Regions from separate parts of the Homo sapiens genome. Here region 1 is linked to region 2. The links come from fine-mapping of genetic effects on gene expression. A gene starts in region 2. The other region holds a variant in brackets. All regions are shown on one strand. Distances are between the middles of the regions.

Region 1 (2,910 bases), 180 kb before region 2:
ACCCTTTGACCAACAACCTTCCCATTTCCCTGGCCCCCCATCCCCTGGTAACAACCATTCTAGTCTCTGCTTCTATGTGGTTGACTATTTTAGATTCCACATATAAGTGAGATCATGCAGTAGTCTTCTAAGTCTGGTTTATGTCACCATGTTCTCCAGGTTCATCCATGTTGCAAATGGCAGGACACCCTTCTTTTTTTAAGGTGGAATAATATTGCTTTGTGTATGTGTGTGTATATATATATATATATATACACACACTACAATTTTTGATCCAGTCATCCATCAATGGACACTTAGGTTGTTTCCCTCTCTTGGTTATCTGGGTATATATCTGATGGAAATAAAATCAGTATCTCAAAGAGATATCTGCACTCCCATGCTCATGGCAGCATTATTCACAATAGCTAGGATATGGACAATGGATTTTTAACCACTCCAGGCAACCACTTCATGTTTGGATACCTAACAGAAGCAACCAGAGAGCTGGTTAAAAATAGAAAATCTTGGGCTCCAAAAAAAAAAAAAAAAAAAAAAAAACCACTGAATCAAAATCTCCAGGAGTGGGGCCTAGGAATCACAATTTTTTAAAGTTCCTTGGGTGGTTCCAGTGCAGCCAGTCATTTGGAAATCACTAAGTCACCTCACTTGCTTGCACATGAGGAATGAAGACAGTGCTGTTGTTACAAAACCAAAACAAGGCAGTGATTCTCCCTTAAAAAGAAAAAGATGCTCATCTGTAATGCTTTAGCATTTGTTTACAGATAATTAAATGTGGAGGAAAAGAAGGTTAGGACCTGAGAAAATCATGTGTTAAAAACTAAAAGTGGAAGGGCCCACTATAAATTAGAGCACTACAAAATTATCACCTGTATCAATAGAAAAATATAGTTCAATATAAGAACATCCAAAGAAATACAGTATTACATGAAATGGCTTCCCATCTGTAGTAGCTTTAACATAACAGAATTAAGACAACAAATCTGCTGAGGGGAAAATATCATGTAGGTCAATTTTATTCATTCGAATCTAACAGACTAGAAATTTGAAGAAATTTTAACAAGCATTTACTTTCCTATCGTATGTCAAGAAAGGCCTTGTTCATAAATACAAGATAGGAAAGACTTTCAGAAGATAGTTAAAACTCAAGAGGACTGTTCTGAAATGTCTTGATCACTTTGGAAGTAACCATTTCTCTAACATTTTGTAATAAAATGCCAAGTATTTTTAACTAGTCATTAAAACTGTTCCGGGAATTTCTATTGTAGACTTTGATATCTAATTCAAGTGGCTGCATAAATTTGGAAGCTACAAAATCAATTTTCCATAAAATATCATTTGGGCTTCACTAATCCAAACTGGCCTCCTTCCTAATTAGGTTGAATTCATGGGATTTTA[T/C]TGTAATGCACTGCCAAATCAAATTGTTAAAACTGGGAACTTTGTGCTATTTTGGATTATCATAACATCCTTTCCCTCCATTAGCAGGGATGGCCAGAGGTTGCTAATACAATAAATGTTTAATGGATGGCAACACTGTCCCTTGCCCCCAGAAATAGAGATACAGACATAAAAATACCCTCAGATCTGTTTGTATCCATGCTTTCTGCCTTCTCTCTTGCTTGTGGCAAACAGTGAATTTTCCCAATATAAAGAGACATGCCAATCGACTTACTCAAGCCAAAGGTAAACAGAAAAGAAGTGAGAAGAAAGGGATGAAAAAACACTGCGGCAGCTCTGGGAGACATAGTCTTCTGTGCCAAGAGACCATCACCTCCTATAAATGTCCCCAGTCCTTTAACATTTGAAATAGAAAGGTGCAGTGGAAATGCAGGCTTCTGGAAGGGCACCAATAGAGCCCATGTAGCCCGGAATGGACTCTGCCCTTAACTAGAAACTGGGAGTCAGTGAGAAAATAGAACCTCGGTTCTAAAAATAGCCCACTTATTTTCATTTCTGGTTTCAATACCTTCACTGCACCTTTGTTTTAAAGGCATTACAGGAGTTCTGACATTTTCTTTCCATTTCTGAATCAACAGAGAAGAAATTCAGCTACATGGTAAGAGAGTTAATATTCTACCTTCTCGCACACTTAACACAGACATACCCATGCAAGAGCACATGTTAAGACTGGCCTCAGTTTGGTTGGGTTTAAGAGAAGGAGTTACCAGCAGTGAACTTTACTTATCTTACCATTAGAAAACAGGGTTGGCCAGGCGCAGTGGCTCATGCCTGTAATCCTAGCACTTTGGGAGGCTGAGGCGGGTGGATCACTTGAGCCCAGGAGTTCAAGACCAGCCTGGGCAATATGATGAAACCCCATCTCTGCAAAAAATACAAAAATTAGCTGAGCATGGTGGTGCACACCTGTAGTTACAGCTACTTGGGAGCCCAAGGTAGGAAGAGCATCTGAGTCCAGGAGGCAGAGGTTGCAGTGAGCCATGATTGCGCCACTGCACTCCAGCCTGAGTGACAGAGCAAGACCCCGTCTCAAAAAGAAAGAAAGAAAGGCTTATTTGGGAGGAGGTGAGACGGCAAGAGAGTACTCAGTTCCCAGCCGCTGCCATCACTCTTTCTCCTTCAACTGCTCACACAAAGAACTTGGCCATTCAAGCCAAAGAAATGTAGATTTCTGTCCCAGCTTCACCATGACCTTAGATAAGTTAATTTCTGCAACTCAGTTTCTTCATGTTTGAAATACTGATAATTATTTTCATTCCAATCACTCTTAACATTAGAGCAGCGGCAGGAGGGGTTAGAATGTGCCCAGAAAGGATGCGTTAGGACAAGGGTCCTGCTGTCACTCTCCAATCAGATCAAAGTGTTCCATCAGTGGCCTTTCAATATGTTTAACTTCTCTTTTTCTTGTCCTTCGACTGCTGGGGAAGAAAATGTTTTAGTTAAGTATCCCAC
Region 2 (2,910 bases):
CCCTCACTGCATCTGTAGGAGCTGTAAAAACCCCTAGAATCTCCTCTAAGGAGGAATCATTCCCTTCAGCCCAAAGTAATCTCAAAATCCAATTGTGCCTGACACTACCTGCCTTAGGCAATCCAAGAGGAGAGCTTCAAAAACTCAGAACTATTTCTCCAGGGTGTGCAGGGAAAGGTGGGAAGTAAGAGGGCTCTGGCTTCATCAGAGCAGAGAAGAGGTTAAAGACAGAGAACTGGCTTTTCCAGCAGGTAAGAAAGACACCTGGTCCCAGAGTGGCTGGGTTCATCCCTCCAACAATGAACACCTGAGGCTTCACTACAGAGCTCAAAGCATGTGAGACTGGGTGTCTGGCACCCAGGATTGAAACTGGCGTGTTGCCATTCATCACAGACTCCTGTTCAAGAAATCGAGTGTGGAAAGAGAACTGGAGGTCGGTGGCCTTCCATCAGCCTTTGGCTATGGCGTAGCCCATTCAGCGCAGGGCCCACCAGCACCCTCATCTCCAGGGATGTGCTGGGACTTTGGGTACCCTAGACACTTTTGCCTTCATAAACCCCTTCCTCCATTTACAAATAAGTAAATTTGTATATTACAACTGCATTGGTATAAAGATGACTATATCAATGTGATTTATCAAAATGGATTCTTTGACCAAAAGTTTTTAAAATTCAGATTATGAAATTGGAACATTTTCTGTGGGCCCCCAAAAGCAGCGGGGGCCGTCAGCACTGTGTCCGCTGGGCCTGCTCAGTGAGGCGCTAAGGGCAGAAGGAAGTGGGGAGAACGGGAGACCTTGCGGGTGTTCTTCCCGCACATCAAGGGGGTGTGCCAGGCCCGAAACGAGGTCTGTCCTAGCCCCACTAGGGCGAGCCTGAGCACCTGAAGCTCACCCCCTGCAGACGCAGCCCCCTGAGGCGGGGACAGGGGTGTCTAGGCCCTGGGGAGCCTCTGTGCCCCGCTGTCCCTCCCCACGCGGACTGCGCCCCGGGCGGAGGCGGGGCTGGCCGGGACTTACTTGAGTTCCACGCACCACGAGCCCGGCCATGGCGGCCAGGACGCTGCGGGCGCGCGGGACGGAGCGCGGGGGCGCGGCGGCAGCAGCGGGGAGCGCGGCAGGGGAGCGCGGCGGGCGCACAGTTCCGCACTGGGCAGTCAGCTGACCCGGCGGAAGCCGGAGGCGCGGGCTAGCCTCGGGGACCTCAGCTCCGCCGCTCGCCGCCGCCGCCCCTCGGCCCGGTCTCCGCGCAGGTGAGCCCTGGCCGCCCGCTGCAACAGGTGGCCCGCAGCGCCCCGCGCCCCGACGGCGGCCTGACCCCGACTGCCCGCGCCCCTCCCTCCCCCGGATGTCCCAATGCCCAAAACTCCATGCCCACAGCTTTATCGCGTTTGTCTGGGCCACGCCTGAGGTGGGGGTATTCCTATCAGGGGCGCCCTTTCTGAGCCGTTAGCCGGGCTGTAGCCAGCCGGGCCTTTCCTGCATTTCGCAAGCTGGGTTACATAATGGACCTCAACTGCAGCGAGGAGGGGCCTCTTGGCTGAACGCCCCTCCTCATCAAAGCTGGGGAGAGGGAAAGTTAGAAGGTTGAAGGACTCCTGGTGCGGCCCAGTTTCCATTTGTAGGAGGGGAGGGGGATTGGGGGGGTTGAATTTCCCTATAAATAAAACGCTGGCTTGGTGAAGACCACCCCACCCTTTCCCTGTGGCCTCTAAGAGTTGACAATAATAAACCCTGGGGAAGGATAATTGGCTGGTGACCCCAAATTTCAGGCTTCTCTTCTCCTGCTCCTCAGAGGGCAAGAGATTTGTGAGGCTTGAAGTTATCAGTGGGGTTATTCGCTGTTCCCCACCCACCCCATCCCCACCTGGAAGAGCTGGCCACGGGCCTCCTGTCTGGATGAAAGTAGGCCCAGTGGGCAGGTAACTCCCTAAACCCATGCCTGTTTTTCTCTGAAATTCTCTGGAAGGATCCAGATTTTCTCCTTGCCTATTCTTGCCTCCAAGTCCAGGATGCACAGAGCTACCAGATATCAACTGGTTGTCATCTTCCACTCTTGCTGCAGCTAAGAGCCAGCCCAGCCTTAACTGGCATCGTCTCTCAGACAGCCCCGGTCCTAACACATTGTTAGGTGGGCCCTTGTCAGCATTTTGATGAGCAGTGTTGATCTCGGAGGGTTGACCTTCCTGCCCCTCTCTCAGCTGGGAGGAGCAGGCTCAGAAGAGTAGAGCAGTAAGAATGCAGTCTTGACTGTGTTTACTTTGGGGGATTCCAGGAAATGCTGCAACAAAAGGTCCTGCAGGCCAAAAAAGAAAGCTTACCCTCCAGAGATAAGGGGATCAAAGGGAACCTTCCCAGGCCTGTTGCCCCAAGGACCAGCTCCCCCGCCTTCTCCCTCCTTCTCTGCTGGACGCGCCCTCTCTGGTCCATTGTGCACTTTTGTCTGCTTTTCCTGCCTGAAAAGGAGGAAGTGAGCCCGGACCCAGCCAGCACTCTGCCCTCCGCAGCTGCCTTTCAGCTCAGCTTTCCTAGAAGGGCTTTGACAGATGGAAGAGGACTTGTGGAAACAGGCCCAAGCTGACTCAAAGATGAGATTGGAGAACGGCTCTCCCTTCCCCCACCAGAAGGGGGTTACTGAAGGTCATCTCATCCATCCCCCTGCCTCCATACACAGCTGGGTCATCTGAGCATAGGCTGTTCTGCAGACACTACCAATGTCACCAAAGTGGGCTGGCATCTTTCCCCCTTTCCACACCCTCTCACTACTGTTGCCTCCTCCACATAGCCCCAGGGCAACCATTTTAAAAGCCCAATTAGATCCTACCTAAAATCTTTCAATGGCTCCTAATCAAGTAATAATTAATACAGTCCAGAATCTTTAGTATGTCCCTGAAGATCTCTTATAATCCCAT

The links. PIP is the estimated chance that this variant, and not a neighbour inherited with it, causes the effect.
Region 1: its variant is fine-mapped to the expression of LRMDA in whole blood (INTERVAL, PIP 0.96).

The regions. Positions count from the first base shown.
Region 1 is chr10:75,605,455-75,608,364 of GRCh38, reverse strand. The region is part of intron 2 of LRMDA (leucine rich melanocyte differentiation associated); the gene reads right to left. Among named protein-coding and RNA genes, the nearest start is that of MIR606, 54 kb to the right of the region's middle. The variant T/C (reference allele first, on the strand shown) is at 1,399.
Region 2 is chr10:75,429,863-75,432,772 of GRCh38, reverse strand. It overlaps LRMDA (leucine rich melanocyte differentiation associated), which reads right to left and starts at 1,149. Exons shown (of 7, transcript NM_001305581.2): 1 at 1,019-1,149. The coding sequence starts at 1,048. LOC107984293 (a long non-coding RNA gene) reads left to right here and starts at 1,163. Exons shown (of 2, transcript XR_001747703.2): 1 at 1,163-1,251; 2 at 2,463-2,910. RefSeq lists enhancers at 340-840, 841-1,341 and a silencer at 1,100-1,199.